Linked DNA regions of Homo sapiens. The protein of the gene in region 2 interacts with the protein of the main gene of each other region in a pairwise test. Each region holds a gene or a part of one and is shown on either strand. Other genes may lie near its edges. The genes, in order: KIFAP3, RBFOX1, SIRPB1, ALG13, RBM24, CELF3 and GCA.

Region 1 (3,500 bases), on a different chromosome or scaffold from region 2:
TTCTCACAATAAAAAAAATTAACAGAAACTGTCCATGCTACAGCACAAACACTGGACTTATCAAAGACTTTAAATCAACTGTCTTAAATATGTCCAAAGAGCAAAAAGAAACCAGTGCAAATAACTAAGAAAAAGGAGAAACACAATGTCTCAACACATAAATAGTTTAAAAATATATTATCATAAGGATCCAAACAAAAACACTAGATCTGAAAAGTACAATAACTGAAATAAAAAAATCACTACAGGGTTTTTAACAGCAGATCTGAGCAGAGAGAGAAAAGAATCAGCAAACTTGAAGATATGTCAAATGAAACTGTCCATTTTGAGGCACAGAAAGAAAACAGAATGAAGAAAAATAAACAGAACCTAAGAGACTTATGGAACACCATCTAGTATACCAACATATGCATAATGAGGGTATGAAAGGAGAGGAAGAAAGAAACATAGAGAATACTGGGAGAAAAAACAGTCAAAAACTTCCCAAATTAGACCAAAGACAAACTTACACATCCAAGAAGCTCAATGAAATTCAAAGATAAACTCAAACAGATCCACAATAAGACACTCTATACTGACGCTCTATTTAAAAAAATAAATAAAAGATTTTGAATTAATAACCTAATTTTACACCTTAAGGGGCTAGAAAAAGAAGAGCAAACAAAACCCCAAGCTAGCAGAAGGAAATAATAAAAAGCAGCAACAGAGACTAGAAAAAGAATAGAGAAAATGAAACCAAAGGTTAGTTCTTTGAAAAGATCAACAAACATTTTTGGAAAACTTTTAGTTAGACTGACTAAAAAAGAAAAGAAGAGACTCAAATTACTAAAATCAGAAATGAAAGTGGGACATTACTGCTGCTCTTTTGATGATTAAAAAATTACAAGAGAATAATATGAACACCAACAAATTGGATAACCTACATGAAAAAGAATAATTCCTAGAAACACACAAACTACCAAAACTGACTCAAAAGACACAGAAAATCTGAACAGAATTAGAAGTAAGGTGATTGAATCAGTAATCATAAACCTTTCAACAAGTCCAGTACCAGATGGCTTCACTGGTGAATTCTACCAAGCATTTAAAGACAAATTAACATAAATACCCCTCAAACTCTTCCAAAAGATATAACAGTAGAGGAAACACTTCCTAATTCATTCCATGAGGCCACCATTACCCTGATACCAAAGCAAGACAAAGACACTACAGGAAAACCTTTAGACCAATACCCTTTATGAATGTCGATGTGAAAATCCTCAAAATACTAGCAAACAGAATACAGGAGTATATTAAAAGGACCACGCAACATGGCCACATGGGCATTTCAATACAATACACCACATTAATGGAATGAAGAAAAAAAGTACATGATTATCTCAATCGATGCAGAAAAAAGCATCTGACAAAACCCAACATCTTTTCATGATAAAAGTACTTGATAAATTAGGAATAGAAGAAAAGTCCCTTAACATAATAAAGGGCATATATGAAAAATCTACAGCCAATATCATACTCAATGGTGAAAGAATGAAAGCTTTCCCCCTAAGATCAGGAACAAGACAAGAATGTTTATCCACTTTCCTGACTTCTATTCAACATAGTACTGGAAATTCTAGCCAGAGCAATGAGGCATGGGAAAAAAAAATAAAAAGGCATCCAGATTGAAAAAGAAGAAGTAAAATTATTTCTATCTGCAGAAGACATAATCTTATATATAGAAAATTCTAAAAATGGCACAAAAAACTGGCTAGAGCTAATAAATTCAGCAAAGTTGGAGAATAGATCAGAACACACCAAAAAAATCCACTGTTTTTCTACATATTGGAGCTGAAAAATATGAAAAGGAAATTTAGAAAACTTCATTTCCAATAGCATCAAAAAGAATAAAATACTCAGGAGTAAACGTAACCAAGGAACAACTGTATACTGAAAACAAAAAGTTGCTGAAAGAAATTAATATGAACTAAATGAAAAGAAATCACATGTTCATGGACTGAAGGACTTAATATTGTTAAGATGGCAATATTCCCCAAAGTGATCTATAGATTCATTATATTCCCAAAGTTTCAATAGCTTTTTTTGCAGAAATGAAAAAGCCAACCCTAAAATTCAAATGGAAATATAAGGAACCCTAAATAGCTGAAACAACCTTGAAAAAGAACAACAAAGTTGGAGGACTCACACTTCTGGATTTCAAAACTCACTACAAAGCTTCAGTAATCAAAACAGTGAGGTACTAGCACACGGACAGATAGATCAATGAAATATAATTGAGAGTGCAGGAATAAACCCCAACATTTTTGGTCATTTAATTTTCAAAAAAATTGCCCAAACCATTCATGGAGGAAAAGAACAGTCAATTGTTCTTTTCTGACATTTGTTCTGACAAATGATGTCAGAACAACTAGATAGTCACATATAAAAGAATGAAGATGGACCCTTGCCATATACCATAGACAATAACTAACTCGAGATGGATCAAGGATATTAAATGTAAAAGCTAAAACTGTAAAACTCTTAGAAGAAAACAGAGGGACAAACCTTCATGACCTTGGATTTAGCAGTGGTTTCTTAAATAACGATGCCAAAAGCATGAGCAACAAAAGAATAAATTAGACTTCACCAAAATTAAAAATGTTTGCATATGAAAGTTTTACATACCAAGATAGTGCAAAGAAAACCCACAGAATGGGACAAAGTATCTGTAAATCATGTATCTGACAAGGTTCTATTACAAAGAACTCCTTTTCCCAAAGAATAAAGACAAATGGCCAAGAAGCACATGAAAAGCTCAATGTCATTAGTAATTAGGGAAAGGCAAATCAATACCAAAATAAGATACCATTTGATATCCACTAGTATAGTAATAATTACAGAACAGAAAATAACAGGTGTTAGTGAGGATACGGAAAACTGAATTCTTATACATTGCTGGTGGGAATGTAAAATGGTGCAGTCACTAGGGAAAACACTTTAGTGGTTCCTCAATGAATTAAACATAGAATTACCATATGGTCTGGCAATTCCAGGCCTAGGTATACACCAAAAGATACAAAACAAGTGTTCAAACAAAAACTTGTACAGTAATGTTCACAGCAGCTTTATTCCCAATAGCCAATAGGTAGAAACAACCCAAATGTCCACCACCAGATGAGCAATAAACAAACAAAATGTGGTATATCCATAAAATGGAATACTGAATTAGTCAATTTTATGTTGCTATAACACAATACCTGAGACTAGGTAATTTATAAGGAAAAGGGGTTTATTTAGCTTACAGTTCCGCAGGCTGGGAAGTTCAAGGGCATGACTCTGGCTTCCAGTGAGGGCTTTTGTGCTTCATTATAACACAGTGGACAAGATCAAAGGGGAAGTGAGAAAAGAGAATACCCAAGGGTCTTCCTGGCTTTATAACAACCAACTCTAGAGGGAACTAATCCATTCCCAAGAGAGCTAATCCAGTCTCACTAGAGCAAGAATTCACTCACTCCAGCAAG
Region 2 (3,500 bases):
GAATGATGCTCCCTGAGGGCAGGGATTTTTGTCTGCTTTTCCCACTGCCTAATCCCAGATTCATAATGAGCACCCAGTGGACGCTCAGAAAACACTTGCTGAATGAATGCATGCATGCATGCGTCAGCATTTTCTTCCCTTCTCAGATTGCTTAGTTCTGATCTTTTCCTGCCACTCATGGCAAGCAAAAGAGCATCGGAAGAGAGCACTGTGGTCCACTGAGAACCTCTTCGGTTTCTTCTTGTTCTTTTAGCAGACAGATGACGCAGCACCGACGGATGGCCAGCCCCAGACACAACCTTCTGAAAACACGGAAAACAAGTCTCAGCCCAAGCGGCTGCATGTCTCCAATATCCCCTTCAGGTTCCGGGATCCGGACCTCAGACAAATGTTTGGTGTAAGTATCACCTTTCTTCCCAGCAGTGCCCGCTCTGGGGGTTCCAGAGACCTCCCTGTCTCATGTAAGTTTGGGGTATTTACAATACTAAGGTTAGATGTTTGTATGGGGAGAAACAATTTAGAGCCTAGTCTGCAGGTATATTGTGGCTAGAATCTCTTTATGGTTTTAGCATGTATTTCTGTACATATGCTCACCATGTATCTACTTTACCAAGTGGCTTTCTTCTAAGAAGTAACTTGTAGGCCAAATGGAACACAAATTCCTAGATGACCCACTGTTGAAGGAAGCCTATTGATGGTCCTAAATCCAATGGCCCAGGACATCATACTGCAGCAAAAATACACATCGAGTCCTCTTGGTTTTGCTTTCTTTTACAGTTGTCAAATGATCCAGAGGGTGACTCTTAGTGTATCCCTGCATTGCCTAGTCTTTCCCAGGCACTGTGCATTTAGATTTCAGATGCATCAGCAGAGAACAACTACTTCTGCATAAAGCTGATTTTAGCAAACAAAACAAAACCACCACCACCGACACCAAATGAGCTACCAGTTTCTAAGTCCATGTTGATTCCTGAAGTCTACGTTCTTCTGAAATCAGTGAAAAGGATTCAGAGGTACTTACTGTGGTGCTATATGCCATGAAGTGTAGCCTTGCCCAGGCACCATGGTGAAACACAGAGCAGGCCACAAGTCACCACTGACCCAGGAGAAAATAATAGCATTGCTTTTTTTATAGGTCATCTTGCCCCTGATTATTTTTTTCTCGAAGATATCTTCACTATCCACTTTGGGAAGACATGAGTTTGCCATTTCTTTGACCAGTGTTCCACCAAAGGACAAAGCTGTGACAGGGCTTGGATATCATTCATGTTTGCAGATGTAGCCAATTTGCCCATGACATCCCAGCAATGATAGCAGGTGCCTCTGGATTCAATGAAAAGAACTACATCCTTAACATTTGACTTAGAGCAATGGTGGGCTTCTCAGAGACTCTTCCTCTAAGAGTTAATAAATGGATGCAAATATCACAAAAGGAACAAGAAGATGCCCAACTTGAATGCCTCATTCCTAGCCAAGTTGGTGGTGTCTCCATATAAAATGGGAGGCTCTTGTTCACTACTCAAAGGCACTGTGTGTTGGGGATTAGCTTGCACCTTTTACTTCTTATACACACGTGATGCTTATCAAGTATGCATCTGACACAAAAGCAGAGCGAGCATCCTAATATTGAAGATACCCAGCTTTGAATGCTGACATTTCAGAGGAAAAGGTCAGCTCTTGCACTTTTATCTCTCTCATTTGGTAATAACCTTGAGTTGAGCCTTCCAACTCCTGCAGAACAGAGATACCCTCGGGCACTTTCAGGTCAAAGATGACTTTGAAAAGTGCAGAGCATTCAAAGTGAGAGTCGAGGTTAAGTGTGTGTGAGGCAGTAAGACCAGGTGTGAATGATGGGCGGTAAGAGGAGTTATATTCTCTTTGCCGTGTCAGGTTAGGAAGACATCTTGCTATGCAGTCTATTTTTTTCTCATCAAGTGTCACTGTGATGTTGGCTTTCAATGTGATCCCCTTAATGACCGTCCTGACACTCTTTCATGGTGTCACTCAGTTATCGTGAAAGTTACTGCAGGCTACAATGCTAAGTCATAGAGGTATTCAAAATATTCACAGGAATCAGAGAAGGGATCCTGAGTCTCTCTAGTCTTACAGAGGTAGGGTAGACGGCAAGGAGCAAGATCTTGCCAAAAAATTGTACTACCGGTCATCAGACCTTGATCCAAATCTACTAGTTTCAGGGCTCTTGTTTTTAAAAAGACAAGTTCTCACTCTGCTACCCAGGCTAGAGTGCAGTGGTGTGATCACGGCTCACTGCAAATTCTTGGGCTCAAGGGATCCTCCCACCTCAGCCTCCCAAGTAGCTGGGACTACAGGCACAAGCCACCATGCTTGGCTAATTTTTAAGTATTTTTTTTTAATAGAGATGGGGTCTCAATTTGTTGTCCAGGCTGCTCACAAATTCCTGGCCTCAAGCAACCCTCCCGCCTTGGCCTCCCAATGTGCTGGGATTACAGCATAAGATGTGAGCTATTGCACCCATCCAGCACCCCCCCCCCCCCTTTTTTTTGTGACAAAGTCTTAGTCTGTCACCCAGACTGCAGTGAAGTGGCATGATCTCGGCTCATTGCAACCTTTCTCCTGGGTTCAAGCGATTCTTGTGCCTCAGCTTCCTGACTAGCTGGGACTACATGCATTCACCACTTCACTTTAAAGTCAAGATTTTCAAGCAACTGACAAGATGTCAATTTGGCAAGATGATAGATACACTTAATACCTGTCAATTAAGAGAACACACCATGCATTTAGTGCACAAACTCAACCTTGTTCATCACAAATAGCATCTGTGTCCCTTTTTTTAAAAGTATGCAAGATTTATTTGTTTCTGTAAATTTTGTCTATAAAAGTGCCAGGAACATACAGATTCATAGACCCCCTTGCAATGACTTTCAAGCCTCCTTAGTTTACAACCACTATTCTAAAGAAATGCAGTTTTATGCACTAAAAATCTGTTCTTTCCTGCCAAACACCGGTGGTCATGGAGCCGTTCTTGTTATAGGATACATTTAGTGGCAGGAATCACATTGTGAAGCATCTGTAAACATTCTCATTGGCTCCCTGCACTGGAGCTTAGGGAATTTAGGAGGGTTTCCTCTTTTGGGTCATAGTTACTGCAAGAAACTACAGTTTAACTCCAATTCGGTACTTCTCACGTTATTTGGACATGAGACATCTTCTTTCCTTTTGGTGCTCTATCCTGTCTTTGTCTTCCCACTTTGACAGGGGTTTACAGTGAGGACAATTACAGAGAAAAACAGTCACAAAGATCTTTGTGCTTTTCCCCCCCTTTGTCTCTTGTTAAATATAGGCATGGGATTTCAAAGTCAAAAGCAAAACAAGACAAAAAAGCAACCTCCTTCTTCAAACTGCCTAAAACTTGGCAGTGATCATTACAACGTCTGTAACCACTAATAATTCGACCATACCATCTGCAACCGTTACATGCCTAATGGTTACTGCAGATGACTCATTTTATTTCTAATTTG
Region 3 (4,178 bases), on a different chromosome or scaffold from region 2:
CATAAGCATGTCACAGAGATATCTGTGCTCCCATGTCCATTGCAGCATTATTTACAATAGCCAGGATATTAAATTAACCTAGATGTCCATCAGCAGATAAATGGAGAAAGGAAATTGGTATACACAATGGAATTCTAATCAGCCTGACCAAAGAAGGAAATCCTATCATTTCCAACAATATAAATGATCCTGGAAGATATTATGCTAAGTAAAATAAGCCAGGCACAGAAAGACAATACTGCATAATGTCTCTCATATGTGGAATTTTAAAAAGTTGAACTCATAGAAGTAGATAGTAGAATATTGGTTACCAGGCACTAGGCAGGGGGTGCATTTGGAGAGATATTGGTCAAAGGATACAAAATTTCAGTTTAGTTAGGAGAAATTAGTTCCACAAATCTATTGTACAATATGGGGTCTAGAGTTCATAACACAATTCGTAACCTCAAAAATTGTTGAAAGCAGATTTTGAGAGATCTCACCACAGAAATGATACATATACAAGGTAGGTCATATGTTAATTAGCTCAAATTAGGCATTCTGCAATGTACACATATTTCATTAATATGGTATACATGATAAGTATATACAGTTCTGTCAAATAAAAATAAAATATTTTGTTAAAAGTTTCATTGAAATTAGAAACTTGGAGAAACAATGATAAAAAATGAAATCTCCTGTGTGTGCATGTACACTTACTTATATGCATACATGCATATACATATGTATACACACATATGTATACACACATTTGCAAATATATATACACACACATATATGTATATATACACACACACACATATATATGTATATATAGACACACACATATACATTCACAAATATATATCAAAGTGTGACCTATTGTGATAGTATATAAGTTTGTTTTGTGTATTAAATAAAATTACAACACACGTTAAAATCTCATTAAAATATCTGGCCCATAGAAAGTAAAATATGTGGCCCATAGAAAGCATCCAACACATTAATAACAAATTTAGAAGTACATACATCACAGTTGTAACTCTGGTTGTTGCTAACAAGTGTGGTAGGCAATAATTAATTCTATGTTTACTTCCCTGCATTTTCTAATATTTCTGCTAGTAGCATAACACGACTAAAAGAATGAACTTTGGAGCCGGTCGACCTGGACTTGAATCTCAGCTGCTCCACTGACTGAGGTAGGGGACAATGAATGGACAAGTTCCTCCCTCTGCCTGAGTCTTTGTTTGGAAATAGGGGATAATAGTTGCAGCTTTCACACAGGGATGTTGTGAGGATTAGTGGAGCTAAAACAGGCAAAATGCTAATAACTGTGTCTACATGGTAGGAAGAGCTCAATTGTTAAACTCTTACTGCTGTCATTTGGGTACAGTGTATGTGTGAGAAAAATAATTTGAAAAGTGAGACCCCTGCCCTCTAGGGCCTGTGAGGTGACATCACAGCAGGGCCCAGTGGGGAATTGAGAGGCTGCTGTGCCCAGCCCTGTGGTTCTGGGGTCAGCTCCATGGCCTGAGAAGGGATCAGGACAGGTAACTTGTCTGGGAGCTGTGAGCAGGGTTCTCCCAGGCTGCACCAGGAAAGGCCCTCCAATCCTGCCTGTCTTGGGAAGGGGAAAGAAATTATCCATGGGAAATTTAAGAGAACCAAAGGAGGTTGTAGTACCTGTTATGGGCTGAATGTGTCCCACAAAATGCATGTGTTGAAGCTCTAATCCCCAGCACCTCTGAACGTTACAGTTTGGGAGACAGGGTCTTTAAGAAGTAATTTAGTTAAATGAGGTCATTGGGGTGGGCCTTAATACAACAAGACTGATATTCTCATAAGAAGAGGAGATGAGGACACAGACACACACAGAGGAAGATCATGTGTTTAAGACACAGAGAGAAAATGGCCCTGTATAAGCCAAGGAGAGAGACTTCAGTAGAAACTAACCCTGCTGACACCTTGATCTTGGACTTCAGCCTCCTTAACTGCAAGGAAGTAAATATCTGTAGTTTCAGCCACCCAGCCTGCAGTTCTTTGTTATGGAAGCCCTAGGAAAGGAATATAGGACCCAGTAAGCAGCAAATGTGGAACTTCTTAAAGAGGAAGAGGCCACAGAGAAATGGGTGGTAAGAATCAGGTCACAGGGGAGGGAGGAGCATGGGGGAACAGAGGACAAAGTGAGGAGCACCCTTAGGGAGGATGGTGGCTGAACACTCCCAGGATACACCACACCACTGCCCTACTCAAGTGAGCACTATTACAGACTTCACATCCTCAGTTTGGTGAAGAGAGAGGGCTGGGCCTAGAGCCACATAACCCTGTTAGGGTGTCTCTGAGCTTACTCTGTGGACTTGGGCATGTCACTTGGCCCTAGGGCCTCAGGACTGGTGAGGATTTAGATAATGATTCTTCTCTGCTTTTTCAATTGAAATATTATCAAAATGTAAGTAATTGTTGTTGTGGTGGTTGAATCGTCCTGTGGTTCAATGCCTCTGGTAGCCAGCTGCAGATCCACAGAGAAAGTGCTCAGCTCCCTGATTTTCTGCTCTCAGTCAAAGCCTAATCCTTGGCCTTTCTTGGCAGCACTTGTCATTGTCCGGAATCCCTGAAAGTCCAGGGACAGGCCATGGCTCAGTGGGCAGGAAAAAAGATTTTAACCGAAGGCAGTGCTCACCTGTGAGTCTCCCCAGCAGTAGCGTCATCAGCAGGAAAGGACTAGGAAGGTGGGGCCAGGAGGCTGGCACGGGCATTCTGGAGACCTTAGGAGCCTGCTCTGTCCAAACGTCTGTGCTGGGAAGATCGCAGACTCTGCTCTGAGGAGAGAAGACAAGCCCTGCCTCCCTTAGTTCAAGAGGAAGTGGCTGCGATGGAGTGAAGCAGTAACCTGCTTCTGGATTGTGAAACAGAAATCAGGAACAGCAAGCAGCTACAATGCAAGCAGTTATGCATGCCCCATTTCAGGAGAATCAGACAGGCTTAGCAGAAATAATGCTTCCTTCCCACCTGAGGTCTTAACTCCTTCCATGACTCCTAACCCCATCTTTATGTCTTCTTGGTGATTTGCCATTTGGTGCTCTTAAGCCAGGAAGGACCTGTGGTTATGAAATGTTTCCTAAACTTTCCATCTCAAGACCTCAGGATGTGGTTGGCTTGTGGTCTCATTCTACAACAGCCTCAACCAAGTGCTACTCAGTTGGGGCAGGATGAGGGATCACTGGACCTGCTCAGTGTTGGAGAGGAACAGGTCTGCTCTTGAAATGGTTCCCTATTCCGAACTTTTATAAATATAAATGGCAAAACTTAGCCCAAATTCAGTCTCATGTGGCCGTTAGCACTTTCATATGCCTGCACCCAGCAGAAGGAATTATTTCCTGACTTCTTCCAGGAGAGGAAGTGGGCTTAGGGTAATAAGGATCTGCTTTGTGAGGTGAGGTGGGGATTATGGGTTATGGAAAGGGGATATGTTTATTATGGGGGAGAATATGGAGGGCAGATTCCTGGAGCAGTCACATCGATTTCAATACTCTTTGCTCTGCACATAGAACACCTATTCCATTCATCACTGTCTTCAGATGGGAACTGAGGAGGGAGGGAGAATAAATACCCTAAGAAGATGTGCTAAGGAGTTGGGGAAGTTACTGGGCCTGCCTAGGTTCAGTTTTGCCTTCTAACCTTGGGATAATAAGTCTCACTGCCATGTTTTAGTGAACATCAAAAGAGATAATGACTATACATCCCTGAGATTCAGTAGGTTATTATTGATACTCATGGTGCCAGGTGAAGAGAGGGAACTCAAATATTGCTTTTAAATGGATTTCTACTGCATGCTGAGTTTCCCACCAGTGGCCTTCTCCCATGTTCCCCGGACTTCTGGAACCCAGCTTTTATGGTGTACTTGGTCTACCTCTGACACTCTGAGATCAATTTCTCCCTCTGGATCCTCTTCACCCTGCTTTTTGTCAATCTGTAGATGAATTCCTTTTCTTACAATCTCCAGCTGTGTGACTTTCAACAAGACACTTGACTTCTCTAAGCCTTAACTTAATTACATGTAAATGGAAGTTATAACATGCACCTTGTAGTGATATGGTAAGAGTAATATAAGCCATACAGAAGGTTTGATTCATATTTAATTATAACCAAAAAATTGTGGCTATAATTACATTTGTGTACAGGGTGAGTTCACTGCTTCC
Region 4 (3,490 bases), on a different chromosome or scaffold from region 2:
CTGTCCATACTTCATTGAAGCTAAGCATAAAAAATGGACAATTTCCCCTGTATTTTTGGGTCTCCATTCTGAAGGTTCCCATGTACACATTAATAAAATTTGTACGCCCTTTCTCTTTATCTGCCTTTTGTGAGCTGAGTTTTTGGTGAACCTTTAGAGGGTGAAGGAGTTTTCCCTTGGCTCCTACAACTATTGAAAGTATAGGATAATGAGAAGTCTGAAGTTCTATAAGAGGGTTATAAATGCTTTAAAAAAACACACACACACATACAACATAAAAGGAACATTTTCTGGAGAAAAGGCGTAGATATGGTAGTATGTGCTGCAATGACTCTAGATTAAATAACATCTCAAGTGGCCCTGCAACTACTCCCCACCAGTTCATGCTAAAAATTCACATTCTTTTGCAACCAAAATGCCAGAGAAAAAACATGTTGAAACAATCAAATGTCCGGTACTCTTTGCTGACATGAAAATGCAAAAAGAAAAAATCCCACTCGTTTTGGCAATTTTAAATGCTAATTTTTATTTACTGCTAACTGTGCAAAAGACACCAATTCAATACAGTGCAGTAAAACACTTACATACATCCAGTATTAAACAATAGCATATGGGATAAATCTAAAGCAGAGAACCATGTGCCTTCAAAACTGATATCACAGAATGCAACTGGCTTCAGATAATTCTCAAGAAACGTGAAGAGCTCTTTAATTTAATATTAAGTGAGTTATCCAGAAGCAAAGGCTCTTGGTTTTACTTTCTAGAAAAAAGTGGAAGTTACTCCAATTCTGCATGGTTTAATATGATGTGTGATTTTTGAACCAATGAAATACTTTATATTCATTTTATCAATTGGTACCATCAGCTAATATAAAGCTGACAAATGGCTGACAGGAAAACAGCTGAATACAATGAAGTATGCTCAATATGGGGCTAGTTGTACATCCATCTCAATTTCCTTAGTCACAGCCCAAAATAATACCCCTTAATTTTAAAGTACTATTTTAAATCAAAAGATAAAATAATTTTAAAGACAAATACAATAGTAAACACTAATCACCTAAATCATTTAACCACTAACATAAAATACTTTTTAAAAACAAAAACAGCAAGAAAATGGCAGTGCAAGAATACTTCATACTGCTGGATCTTACATACCCTGAGGTACATAATGAGAAGCTGGGGGAGATGGAGCAATACAGCCAATTGGCCCAGGATTTATAGCACCATGAATTTGAGAAGAACCACCATATGCTGTACCAACTGGATGCCAGGGGGGAACACAGGAATAATCTGGCACAACCGGAAGGCAGGAGTCAAAACCTGGCAAAGGTGGCTGCCCATAGGGATCTGACATTACTGGATAATAGACTGCTCCATGAGGGACAGATGAAGAATCAGCATTCGGAAAAGTATCTGAAAGAAAGGATGTATACAGTCTACTTTATATACAAAAATTCACCAAAACAGAACCCCATGCAACATAAATGGATGTTCTTATGTGTGAAAATAAAACTAACTATAAGAAAGATCACAGCAATTGCAGCAGGAGCACTTTAAATACAAATAATGAGTAAAGATAATATGAAAATTTCCAAATTAAAAAACTGTGAAATATATGTGTCAAATCTATTCAATGTACAGACAGCTATCTTTCTGGGATGATTTAGGTATCAGCAAGCTAAATACATAAATATTCTTTAGAGTCCTTCTAGTTAATTAAATTCTTGTAAGAGGTGGTCACAATTGAGTTATCCAATAGTTTTACAGTATACATCATCCGAATAACCATTTAGCAATGAAAAACTCAGGTGTCTAGACATTCTGGTCTATACCTGAAAGTATAGCTCTGAAGAACACCCTAAAAGTGTCATCTCCTGAATGTCATTAAGATCACATTTTAATTTCATAGCACTTTTGCCATGAGTCAGTTCCAGTAGAAATAAATGCTGTTTTAACCTTGCTATAATGAGTATACACATTAGACAAAAAAAAAAAAAAAAAATTCATTACTTGGGCTTAGATTAACTCTGTGAAATTAAGACTGCCACTGCCTCATAGTTAACTACAATTAAAAATAGCTCTATAAAAGGTATACTGCACAAAATTCAAAAAAAAAAGATTGACACTGTAATATGCTTTAAAAATGGAAAGGAAGAGAGAAATTAGTATTCCTAATATGCACCAGGTAATAGTATACTTATACATAAGGTCCCAATTAGTTCTTATAACAACCCTGGCAAGTCAGGTACGAACTCCTGACCTCAGGTGATCCACCTGCCACAGCCTCCCAAAGTGCTGGGATTATAGGCGTGAACCACCGCACCTGGCTCAGTGAAGTATTTTAATACCTAGCCTTTCAGATAATTGTAGATATTCTTTGATGCTACACCCAAACTACATAAGTGGTAGTTCCTCAAAGGTCACTAGCAATGTGGATTTTTCATGCTCTGTTACATTAAAATCCACTGTTTTATCTTGCACTTGGAAAGATCTGTTACAAAAATCACACCTTGGTCATATCATGCATTGGTAATTGGGAAACTCTTCCTTCACTGAGTTATGCAGATCTTCCAAATGTTGACACATTTCCTCATACAATTTAAGAAACTACATTCAGCTCTACTTATCTTATTACAGGAGTTTTAATTGGTGGGAAGGTGTCAAGCTCATGGTGGAAGATACATGTTTTCCAAAATTCTAATTTTTATTTGAAAGCTAAAATTGTATCTTTGGCAACAAATATTACTAGTTATTTATCCTAAAGTGACAGGCTCACTTTGTTCATTTAAGAAAATGCCGGCCAGATCAACTAAGTGTGAATAATGATAGCTTATCCCTCTTTCAAGTCAGCAAGTACAACTCATAACTTAATAGCACAAGTCTTTTTCCTTAAGTTAATCATTATACTTCATTTAGTATGCAGAAGTGTTTTATAAGTAGTTCCATTTTTGTCACAAAGAAAAATACAACTATTCAAGGATAAAAATTTAGTAAAAATGTCTTTGATTAAACAAAAAAACATAAGATTGGCATTTTTGTACCATGGGTGTGTGGCAGTGAGAAAAACACTGATTACTAGCAGAGTCTGGGGTCAGTACCAACTAGTGCTTAGGTGTCAGCAGTTTTACCCACCACTGGTTTCTATGTCCTCAATGAAAATGCAAGCCAGTGAAAGGGGCAAATAAACTCTTAGTATTATTGTGAACACTTCTGACCTCATGAATCCCTTGAAAGAGTCTTAGGGACCACAAGAGGTCCACATATCATGCTTTGAGAATCACTGGTGTAGTACATGGACCTGATGAAATATATGAAAGCTATTATTGAATTACACACAATAAAATCCAACTGTCTTTCTTGCTGGCAATCTCATTACACACTCACCATTTGCTGATGCTTCCGCCTGTATGCCATCTTCTCTCCTCACCTCACTGTAGCATTGAGGAACGGTTTGATCTACCAGAGGTGGCTCAGTATAGACTGGATA
Region 5 (3,500 bases), on a different chromosome or scaffold from region 2:
AATAGAAAAATTCTTAGCCAAGAATATAGGACTCAAAAGGTAGTCCATAATTATTCACTTCTGTGGGGTGATCACCAGTTTGTCGAAATTAACATAAACGTTAACAAAATCCGTATGTTTATTATCATGGCAACCCTACTTGAAATTGCTATGCAGACTCAGCACACATTAATCTCTCTGCAACCTCAGTCACCCTTATTAAAAATAATAATTAAAAAAGGAAGCAGGCGACAAAATAAGAAAAAGGAGTTTAAAAGTTCACAAGTGTGGTAAACACAGCAGAATCACACTTCTCAAACGAACTGTAGTGCAGCTCACTCTGTCACAAGAGGCTGTCGTGGGAAGCTACAAAAATGCTATTAACATTCATGGCAGTGATTCCCAAAGAGATGTGCAGCACACTTATTTTCTTTCTTTCTCTTTTTTTTCCCCCATAAAATTCATAAGGACACAACGGTCAACCAAACCTGTTTGACTATCAGGCACCTGAGGGTCAGCCAGCTTGTTTATCTCTATGCAAGACAGACAGAAGGGGTTTTGGGGAAATGATGAGGTTGAGGGAAAAGGCAGGACAGGGAAGTACAACTAAATATTTCTAAAATTAATAGAAATTTAAAAGGTTTACATAACAAGGAAACTTTTTTTGCACATCTACTAACTCTTGTTTCATCCTCCAAATTAGCAGAAATACGTTAGTGTTATGTTCGAAATCTGCCCTATTCGTTGATATTTTGTACAAATCATATCAATTGTATAATCATGTGTTATCCTGCAAAAGTTCAAGAAAGTCAAACAAAACCAAGTATCTTTTAAAATTATACATTCACAGATAATACAAGACAGACTCCAATGACGTTACTTAAAAGTTAATGTGGTTAAAAAAATAAATCACAAGAGGTATTTAAACAAAAATTCCATGCATCTCCATTCTCACTCTTGCAATTTATTACTGCCCATCTGAAACACTACCATAAATATCTGATTTATCTTCTTCTTTAAAATAATCTCCATTAAAGCCCCCTATATTTATATCTAAAAACATGACACTATAATACTACGTGGTTGCTGGCAAAGCCAACTTGTAAGAAGTACAAGGACAAGTAACAACCTTTCAATTTCAAAGAACTCAAAACAGAAAACAGCACTTGTAGATTTTTCAGAAACATAGATTTTGCTTTGCCTTTTCAGAGTTTTACTGAAAGCACTCATTAACGAACATCCATGGAAAAGATGAATTTATCTCAGAGGGTAGTGGACTTTGGCCCCAATGATAAAAATACACTCAATTTTACCAGACTTGTAGATGTTTCCCAGTGCCAGGAGAAACGACGTCATCAAGTGTTTCTGAGGACACTCAGAGATGTTCTTAACTGCTTGTCAGAAACCAGGCGCGTGGTCATGCACACACTCAGAACTTTGCTGCAGGTCAGGTGACTGGCTCACTCGCAACAACAGGTGTGGCTTTATGAAACACTGTCCCTGGAGGCTGCCGTGTCTACAACGTGTAGACACGGCTAAGAGAGCCTACTCTTATGCCAGTTTACATGTGGTGATGGACAGCAGGGGCTGCAGCCGGGCTATTTTTGATCCTGTCATGCGACAAGGGTTTCCAGCGGGTAAAATGTCTTTATAAGGCCAAAGTAAAACATCTATCAGCTGCAAAGGCCAGCCAGTGCGGATCTCACTGACACCGAAACCTTAACCCCTTGTACTCTCAAAGTTCCAAGAACAACACTGTGGGTGCTAGGTTGGTATCTCTGAATTAAGGTGTTAAGTGAAAATGTTTATCCTACAAAAAGGAGAAAGTGTTGTGAAGAATGCATTAAAAGACAGGCAAGGTTGCTTAGGGGGCTTTAGCTCTGCATTTACTTTGCATTAGGAAATAGTTTTGATTTCACAATGTCAAACAATGAGAATATAAAGAAAGTTCACTGGATTATCAGACTCCTACATGAAGTTTGGCAAAGGTTAAAGAGACGTCTGGAAGGCAAATGAAAACCTAGAACATTTTAAGGCTTAGAGGGAAAAGGAGAACCCGAAAGACCTTGGAGAGCCTAAAATATCCTGGGTCAGGAAGGAAGGCAGAATTGGACTGAAGGTTCAAGTGGCACTTTGGAATGAAATCCTGAATTAGGAGTTCTTTTTAATAGTCTGAGACCCATTAAGGTGATCTGGGAATCTCCCTCCTATTAGACATTTACCAATGTCGTTTCCTTAACCATAAAACGTGCATGCCTAGCAGTTACAAAAAGCACAAGTGCAAAGAAGACACTTTTGGTAATTTTCAAAGAAAATTTACTACATTTTCCTTTTCTTCCCATCTCTTCAGGTTCCACTGACATCTCTATGTGACTTTTAAAGCAACATCCTAACTGGTTTTGAAGCAATATCCTAATCGGTTTCTTTTTCCAATCTATCTCACAGCAACTGATGACAAATACTCCATCTCATTCATTTGCTCAAAGTAATCCTTGGCCCCTAAAAAACCAAACTCAGTGCAAATTTCTTAAGCCTTGGCATTCTAGGCCAAAACATCCAGACTGCCCCTGGCTCCAAAACACCTTTCTAGTATTTCCTTCCACCTTTCCTCAAACCCAGGTCAACTGGGCTCCTTTATGTTTCCTGGACAAGCTTCACATTCCCAGATTCTTGCCCTTTATTCATGTCATTCATCCCTCACCCAGATGCTAATCCTCACACTGTCTCTACCTGCTGAAATCCAAATCCCACTCACCCTAGCTCTAGCACTCACTACGTGTAGAGGTTTCAGAAATTTGCTTTATCGTTTAGTCTCATATGTTTCTTTTTTTATGCTTTGTTGTCTTAACATAGCCTCCTATTTTGCATATGTGAAATGGACTAATAATCTCACAACCCTGGATTGCTGTGCATTAAATAAAATTATCTGTGGAGAGAGTCTACAATGCCAAATATAGTAGGCACTCAATAAAAGAGTTCCCTACCCTCCACCATTCTTTAAAACCTAGGTCAACTTCTACTTCCTTCACGAAGACTTCTGAATCCCACTCATTGTCCTGATGTTCGTCTCTCTTATCTGAAGCCACATGGACAGCCCTTCTTGGTGCTTATCGGCTTTCTTACTGGATTATGAGAGAATAGAGTTTTGTCTTTTGGGGCTACAGCTTGACAAAGAGGAAAGACTGCAGCTTCTGAGGTCAGGCAGACCATGATTCTGAATCTAGACTCAGCCTCTAACACTTAGCAGTCCTGTGATCAGGGGGAAGTTAATTAACCTCTCTGTGTCTTAGTTTTGGAAAAGATATTAACAATGCCTTCAACAAACACTTACTGTGAGAATTAAATTATGTAATTTATGTAAATCCCTTATCATTACAATCCATATGGCAGATGTTTGGTTAGTGTTAGTTACAGTCCCTCCTGCCCTCCTTAGTGGACACTATAAAAACTAAGCACAGTGTTACCACACCCAGCATAAAACTGAGCACTTAAAGGGGTACTGAGTCAATGTTTAAGTGTAT
Region 6 (3,500 bases), on a different chromosome or scaffold from region 2:
CCTCTGGGCCGAGGCCAGGCAGGTGGGGAGCAGAGCTTCTCTGGGCATGGGGTGTGAAGTGAGAAGGCAGAAATGCACAAAGCAGTGGGAAGAGGGGAAAGAGCCCAGCGTTAGGAAGACTTGGGTCTGACTGTCTTGCAACCCTGGACAGGTCGCTTCACTGCTCTACACCTCAGCTTCCTGGCCGAGCCCAACAGGAAGGATCATCCCCGCCCAGGATGGCAGGGCAGGAGGAAGCACCTGTACCCCCAAAGCTGGGAGGGAAGGTGTGTCCTGCCTCCCTAATGGGAGTGGTGGTTTAGATGGTTGCTGGGACGGAGTGGGCAGGCAGAGAGTCCCACCTGGGTAGGGGTGAACCCCGTTGGGATACAGAGCATCAGGGGCAGGCTGCCCAGTGGGCTGGGTGGGCACCGGGCTGTAGCCGTTGACGCCCAGGGCAGCCGGAATGGCAGAGACAGGCGTGGCAGCGATGGCAGGAGGGGTGCTGGTTCCTGGGGAGGAGAAAGCGACAGGGAGAGAGCAGAGGAGCAGACACACACACAGGCAGAGAACCAGTCAGCAAGTCTGTGGGCAGAGGGGAGGAAGCAGGCCTCTCTGACCCCTGAGTCCCTCCCAGACCCCGAGGCTTCCCTGAGCAATGCCCTGTGCCCCTCCCTACCCCTACCATGCTTAGCTCCCTTGCCCGGCCTTGCCCAGGCCATACCTGAGGATGGGGTGATGGGGGTGGCGATGAGGCCATTGGCATTGATGGCAGCCATGTGCTGCATCTGCACGGCAGCCATGGTGGCCATGGGGCTGAGGTAGGCACTGTGAGCCGCTACCAGGGCCGCCTGCTGCTGCATCAGCTGGGGGGAGGGGAGAGGAGAGTGGGGCAGGCCCCCTGTGCCCAAGCCTGGCTCCCTCCCAGCCCGGGGCCTTGGCATCGGGAGGGTGGGGGCAAGATACAGGGGGTCAGGAGGGCTGGCCCGGCATCAGGGGCAGTGCTCACGGCCTGGGTGTAGGCGCTGTAGGCTCCAAACTGGAGGGCGATGGGGCTGAACATGCCCAACTGGGTGGCCACCTGCTGCATGCGGCGGAGACCTCGCTCCTTCTCAGTGTCAGCAAACTTCACCACCAGGCTGGACGAGGCACCCTGGGCACGGGCCCACACACAGGTCAGAGGTGCAGGGTCAGGGTCTCTCCTCCCCAAAGCCCTCAGGACCTGGTCTCCATTCCACCCCCATGGCATGGCTTGGCCTCTCTGAGAGGGCGGCCACCATTTTGCGTATGAAAGATGGGGAGATATTAATCCCACTCTCTCCCTATGCTAGGATGTGCAAGAGGCTAGAAGAAAAAATGAGGAATGTGAAGGCACATGCTTGGAAAGTGAAAAGCCTACTGGAATGAAAAGGGCATCATTGGCTACTCTGTGAGGACTCTGAACTGGAAATCATCCCCACCCTGGGTTGCCACAGCAAATGTTTAATCTCAGGCTAGTCTTCCCTTGTAGCTGCCCTGCGTGCCTTACCACGACTCCTGCCCCCACACCCCAGTCCTCATGGTGTGCCTCAAATCTTAATACTAGTCTGAGCTGAATAAAAACCAAATTGGAGCATTTGCAAGGATGATGGTAGAATCCTAGAATCTCAAAGCTGGAAGGGGCATAGGGTCATTGGACACAGTTCTCTACCCAATGCTGTGTCCCCTCCACCAAGGCCCCGTGAAATGTCTGCCCAGCCTTTGCTGGAGAGCTGTGAGTTATGGGAAGTGCACAGCCTTCTGAGTCAGCCAGTTCCAATTTAGAGGTGGGCTCTAGACTGGTCACTGACCTAACGCTGCTGTGCAGGGGCAGGGAAGAGGGGTGCACGTGGGGCCTCTAAGCAAGTGTCCTGGCGCCCCAGCAAATGAGGGTAGGGGGATATGGGAAGGCTGGAGAAGAGACGGGGGTGAAGGGAGGGCTGGGGAATGGAGGGAGAAGGAGAGGGATGTGAGGGAATTTGGCTGAAGGTGGATGGGGAATAGGGGAGGAGTGGGGAGGTGGGGAAGTGCCATTTGAAATGTGAGGGTGTCCCTAAGCAGTTTGGTTCTTCTGCCAGGACATTCCTTTCCAATAAATTCAAATAGCCCATCCTGAGTGGACTGCTTCTCTGGGCCAGGGCCTGGCAGGTGGGCAGGGTGGGAAGGAGAGGCCCGGGGGCAGGGGAGTGGGGCTCACTGGCAGGGTCCGGCTGCTGTGAAGGGTGTTGATGGCCGCCTGGGCCTCAGCGTGGGTCTGGAACTTCACGAAGGCGCAGCCTGGAGAGGTTGAGATGGAGGAGGAGAGGGGTAAGCACCCATCCCTGCGGGACCCCGCGGTGGAACCCGATGCCTAGGGAGTCTTGGGGGTGGAACAGGAAGGGGAAGGGCCCGGTGGGGAAGGGGGAAGTGGGTGGACTACCTTTGCTGGTGCCATCTGGCCCCCGGAGCACAGTGCACTCGTCGATGGTCCCGAAGGGCTCAAACATCTTCCGGACGTCCTCATCTGTCTGCTGCTTCCCTAGCATCCCCACAAAGAGCTTCCGGTCTTCTGGGTGGTAGGGCACAGGAGGAGGGCATGTTCAGGGCCTCCTGGCTGCCTTCCCAGCCCTTCTTCCGCCCTTCCCTGGAGCTCCTAACACTACTTCTGCTACCCTTAGGGTCCAATGGCTGTAGGGGCTGATGGTTGGGGAATGGGGTATAGTTGCAGAGGGTGCTCATCCCAGCTCTGAGGGACTCGCACTCCACCCTGGGCCTCAGTTTTGCCATCTGTACCCGCCCCAGATCTCACCCGCTCTGGCCACACTGACTCCTATCTCACCGCAGCTGGGAACTCTTCAGAATCATCAGGCTTTCTCCCTCAAGAAAGGCTACCCCTCGACAACTCCAGGCCCTGGGCCTGGGGGTGGGAGGAGAGGGACAGAGTCCAAAGGCACAGAACCTACCTCCTCGGCTCTCGCTGTCGGCTGGCTTGACCTGGATCGGCCTGTTCATCTGAAGGAGAGAAGAGAAGGCAGCTGCTGGGGACCTCCTCTGAACACCCAAGAGCCCTCCCAGGCCAGGCCCTGCAGAGAGACTAGAGGGGCAAGCCCCAGGCCCTCTAAGTTTCTGATGGGAAGGAAGGGACAGGGCCTAATACTGTTCAGGATGAAGGCCTGAGGGGATCAGAGGCACAGAGAGAGAGGATGTAGAGGGAGAGGCTCATGGGCACAGCTCCAGGCTCAGGTTGGGCTCCTGATGACTTGGCCAGGGATGGGTGCTGCTGTCCTGAGTGGGAGAAGGGGGCCTGCACATAGGACCCGGGGCCTGAGAGAGAGCCCGACCAAGGAGTTATTTAATAAGAATTGCCTCAATTCTACAAAGTGGGCGCAACAGAGGCCACTCTGAAGAAGCCCCAAGGAGGACTCTAGACTGAGGGAGACCCCACAAAGGCCCAGACTTCCTTCTGACCTCTAGAGGTGTGTCTGCCTCTCTTTCTGCCCCCCTATACCCCTTGACCCCAGGGG
Region 7 (3,500 bases), on a different chromosome or scaffold from region 2:
AACCAAAACAAGCAAAATGAGGAGAAAAAACAATCTGGAAAAAACAAAGGTTATATAGGAAGAAAAAACTTTAAAAATATATTAATAGTCTCAGAGAGATAAGGGACAATATCACATTCATGAAAATAGAACAGAAGCTCTTGGATATTAATGAAAAGCAGAAATGAAAGACTCAATAGAAGGTTTAGGAAATAAAGTTGAGGAAAATTCCCAAAAAGTTCAGCAAAAAAAAATGATAGGAGGAAAAAGATGATAAAAGTAGAAAACCCAGTGAAAACAAAAAGCATTCCAAGAAACAGAAAATATCATTGAAGAAAACGTCCTACATCTAAAGCAAAGGAGTTTCCAGGCTGAGAATACCATCTGAGTTCCCCACACAACACAACTAGGTACTTTACCATCAAATCGCAGAATACTAAAGACAAAGATCTCACAAGTTTCCAGAGAGGAATAACAAATCACATCACATCCAGGCAGGAAAGAGAAAGATAATGCAACAAGGGACGCTAGAAACAATGGAGCAATACCTTTAAAATTCTACTTGAGAATCATTTGTAACCTAGAATTCTATACCTGGCCAATCAATTCTGAAGGTAGAATGAAAGCATTTTTAGATACATAAGCTCTCAAAAATTTATCTCCCATATATTCTTTTGTTTGTTTTTGAGATGATGTCTCACTCTGTCACCAGGCTGGAGTGCAGTGGCCCAATCTCAGCTCACTGGAACCTCTGCCTCCTGGGTTCAAGTAATTCTCCTGCCTCAGTCTCCCGAGTAGCTGGGACTACAGGTGCGTGCCACCACGCCCAGTTAATTTTTGTATTTTTAGTAGAGACGGGGTTTCACCATGGTGGCCAGGGTGCTCTCGATCTCTTAACCTCATGATTCGCCCACCTCAGCCTCCCAAAGTGCTGGGATTGCAGGCATGAGCCACGGCGCCTGGCCGTATTTTTTTTTTATATTAAGAAGCTGCTTAACTATACATTTCACTAAAATAAGATAATGAATTTTTTAAAAGAGGACAACAAGAGATGGAGTAAAAAGGAGATCTAACTCAAGAGAAACGGGGAAACCAGCTTCAGAATGATGGTGAAAGAATCCCAGTATGACAGCTACACATAAAAAACTGCATATCCCAGAGTTCTAGGATAATACCTGACAACTAGTGATTTCAAGAAAAGCAAAACATTATATAAAAAGGAAAAGTAATCATACATTATCATAAGATACAGCTATAAGCAGCATTCAGATAGTAAAAATAAGGTAAAGACTAACATACCTAACAAAAGTTACTATATATTATAACTACATTGGAAGGACAGGAGGATGGGAAATGTTCCTCTGTGGAGTGCAGAGACAGGGGAGAGTTTAAGGTTAAAATAAAGTGAAATCCTCATCTTTCATAGCAGGATATCAATAGATAATCATAAAATCCAAAAATCAATCGTGAAAAAAATATTCTATCTTGAAATCTGGAAGCAAATTTCAAAAGAATCAGATTTTTAAAAGTCAAAAGAAGTGTCCTCTATGAGCAGTTAATGTTAAGGAGACAGGAATACACAATGAACAGTTATTTTCATAACGAGTTTTACAGTTATTTGACTCCTTAAACTATGTGCATGTATAACTGTGATAATTTTTTAAACATTTTAATTACAGGGACAAAAAAAGTAAGAAAATAAACTTCCTATTATAATTTCAACAAAAGGGGAAAAAAGATCTCACGAGAGTAAGTTCCATTAATTCCAGACTGTGTCAAACATCTCTGAAGTTCTTCAGCATCCACTTCACCATCCTGTTTAAAAATAATTATGACCTAATTTAATGTGCAGTTGTATAAAAGCATATTAAAATGTCAATTGACTGTTCTAGGCCAATCAAGACATATGCATTCTTTGAAACATTACTCTATAATTAACTACAAAATTCTAGAGATAATTACTGACAACAAAGGCATATTACAAAATATCATACCACAGAAATAATTTCTTCCACTTCTGAAGAATAGCACAATTACCCTGTTCTATAATGGTTCAAGACAATCTCATAAGAGTCATTGTACTTCTATTTTAAACAGTTAGAAAAACAGTTAAACAGTTAGAAAAATGCCTAAAATGTGTTCAGAAAAGTCTCGAAAACATCCCCACTCATGCTGTTTTGGGAGGAGATTATTTATAAATAATACTGAAGCTTTAACTGGAAGGGGAAAATATATTTTCCCCCACCATTACCCCTAGCAAAATTCTAGAGTCCCCCTGTATCTTGCTGCTATTCTTCTGATTACTGCCCAAACAAGTCTTGCCTGAACTTACTACAGAAAATAAAGTTTTAAAATGCAAACAAGAAATCACAATGGAAATGAAATAGGTTGAGTATTCTCATTATGATTTAGTACCTCATCCTGTTTTTGACAAAAATAAGTAATTCCTTTGGAACCATCACAAACATTGGCACAAATGCAAAATGTAGCTATGATGAAGGATCAAGGAGGCAAATTTAAAACCTACTCTTCATAAGAGATCCAAGAAACAACAAAACAAAAAACTTTTCTAAACTACTTCTAAGAAATATTATTAACACTCACATTCTAATGGATTTTTGGCAAAAGAACCCCTTACAAAACTGCAGCTGTTCTAATAGAAATTACAAAATACTAAGCAGCATTCTTCCCTTAACTGAATTAGGTAGCATTAGCGGTAGAAAGCTGAATGTCCTAATTAAATTACAAGAGCATCAGGTAGAGAATTAACAAAAATCAATTGCCCTTCGTTAGGCAGCAAGATTTTAAAATGATATCCAACTTCAAGTCCTATTTGTTCAGTTACTCAATTTGAGTCTCCACTTACTTATCTATAATACAAAGGTAGCTGTGTCATGCCCACATCACAGTTGCTGTGTGGAAAAGTAGAAGCAGTGTGCATACAAAAGTTAAAGTTGTTGGTATTACTGTGATGCATGTGTCTGTATGTATGAAGACAGAAACCAGAATTTCCCCAAATTAATTGATGATTTAATCCTTACTGTTTAGAATACTTCATCCTATAAATAAGAACACTGCAGAAACCTTTAATCAGGTGTTTTTCATAGAGCATTATTAATTATGAGGCCCATCAAAAAAGGATATGGCTGTAGATGTAAGTTCAGTAGTTGGGTTCCAGGAGCAGTATACCTAAGTCAGATGTTGCACCTGATCCCTCAAAGCTAGGTAGAACTCAATATATGAAAAAATACAGTCTAAATATTTAGACTAAAAATTGAAAATGGGATAGTTAATTCATCCATACGAAACATTTATCAAATGTTTATATATTCCTAATATCTACCTGTCAAGTAGGGAAAATATGACCAGAACCCTGTCTTTATGGAGTTTATTTATTCAAAAGCACAAGACTGGGAAATTTAAGGAAAGTATCAAATAGTTCAAACATAGCGAATTTATTGCTGACAATTAAAATGCTGAAATAGTTCAGCAGTCAAAAAGAGTTTCCAAATATATGTCCA

What was found.
Region 1: the proteins of RBFOX1 (region 2) and KIFAP3 interact in a two-hybrid assay, tested with the Homo sapiens proteins (one large-scale study listed by BioGRID and IntAct).
Region 3: the proteins of RBFOX1 (region 2) and SIRPB1 interact in a two-hybrid assay, tested with the Homo sapiens proteins (one large-scale study listed by BioGRID).
Region 4: the proteins of RBFOX1 (region 2) and ALG13 interact in a two-hybrid assay, tested with the Homo sapiens proteins (one large-scale study listed by BioGRID).
Region 5: the proteins of RBFOX1 (region 2) and RBM24 interact in a two-hybrid assay, tested with the Homo sapiens proteins (one large-scale study listed by BioGRID and IntAct).
Region 6: the proteins of RBFOX1 (region 2) and CELF3 interact in a two-hybrid assay, tested with the Homo sapiens proteins (one large-scale study listed by BioGRID).
Region 7: the proteins of RBFOX1 (region 2) and GCA interact in a two-hybrid assay, tested with the Homo sapiens proteins (one large-scale study listed by BioGRID and IntAct).

The regions. Positions count from the first base shown.
Region 1 is NC_000001.11:170,068,196-170,071,695, forward strand, and holds part of KIFAP3 (kinesin-associated protein 3), read right to left. Parts: intron 723-3,500; exon of another isoform or gene 1-722. UniProt on the Homo sapiens protein: Involved in tethering the chromosomes to the spindle pole and in chromosome movement. Binds to the tail domain of the KIF3A/KIF3B heterodimer to form a heterotrimeric KIF3 complex and may regulate the membrane binding of this complex.
Region 2 is NC_000016.10:7,579,524-7,583,023, forward strand, and holds part of RBFOX1 (RNA binding protein fox-1 homolog 1), read left to right. Parts: intron 1-253; coding exon 254-397; intron 398-3,500. UniProt on the Homo sapiens protein: RNA-binding protein that regulates alternative splicing events by binding to 5'-UGCAUGU-3' elements. Regulates alternative splicing of tissue-specific exons and of differentially spliced exons during erythropoiesis.
Region 3 is NC_000020.11:1,617,210-1,621,387, forward strand, and holds the start of SIRPB1 (signal-regulatory protein beta-1 isoform 1 precursor), read right to left. Parts: upstream 2,801-4,178; 5' UTR 2,736-2,800; coding exon 2,660-2,735; intron 1-2,659. UniProt on the Homo sapiens protein: Immunoglobulin-like cell surface receptor involved in the negative regulation of receptor tyrosine kinase-coupled signaling processes.
Region 4 is NC_000023.11:111,757,660-111,761,149, reverse strand, and holds the end of ALG13 (UDP-N-acetylglucosamine transferase subunit ALG13), read right to left. Parts: coding exon 3,388-3,490; intron 1,417-3,387; coding exon 1,151-1,416; 3' UTR 501-1,150; downstream 1-500. UniProt on the Homo sapiens protein: Catalytic subunit of the UDP-N-acetylglucosamine transferase complex that operates in the biosynthetic pathway of dolichol-linked oligosaccharides, the glycan precursors employed in protein asparagine (N)-glycosylation.
Region 5 is NC_000006.12:17,287,861-17,291,360, reverse strand, and holds part of RBM24 (RNA-binding protein 24), read right to left. Parts: intron 1,790-3,500; exon of another isoform or gene 1,336-1,789; coding exon of another isoform or gene 1,293-1,335; intron 513-1,292; coding exon of another isoform or gene 468-512; intron 1-467. UniProt on the Homo sapiens protein: Multifunctional RNA-binding protein involved in the regulation of pre-mRNA splicing, mRNA stability and mRNA translation important for cell fate decision and differentiation. Plays a major role in pre-mRNA alternative splicing regulation.
Region 6 is NC_000001.11:151,706,804-151,710,303, forward strand, and holds part of CELF3 (CUGBP Elav-like family member 3), read right to left. Parts: intron 2,989-3,500; coding exon 2,940-2,988; intron 2,546-2,939; coding exon 2,417-2,545; intron 2,275-2,416; coding exon 2,195-2,274; intron 1,133-2,194; coding exon 989-1,132; intron 846-988; coding exon 704-845; intron 492-703; coding exon 342-491; intron 1-341. UniProt on the Homo sapiens protein: RNA-binding protein involved in the regulation of pre-mRNA alternative splicing. Mediates exon inclusion and/or exclusion in pre-mRNA that are subject to tissue-specific and developmentally regulated alternative splicing.
Region 7 is NC_000002.12:162,350,632-162,354,131, reverse strand, and holds part of GCA (grancalcin), read right to left. Parts: intron 1,795-3,500; coding exon 1,725-1,794; intron 721-1,724; exon of another isoform or gene 399-720; intron 1-398. UniProt on the Homo sapiens protein: Calcium-binding protein that may play a role in the adhesion of neutrophils to fibronectin. May play a role in the formation of focal adhesions.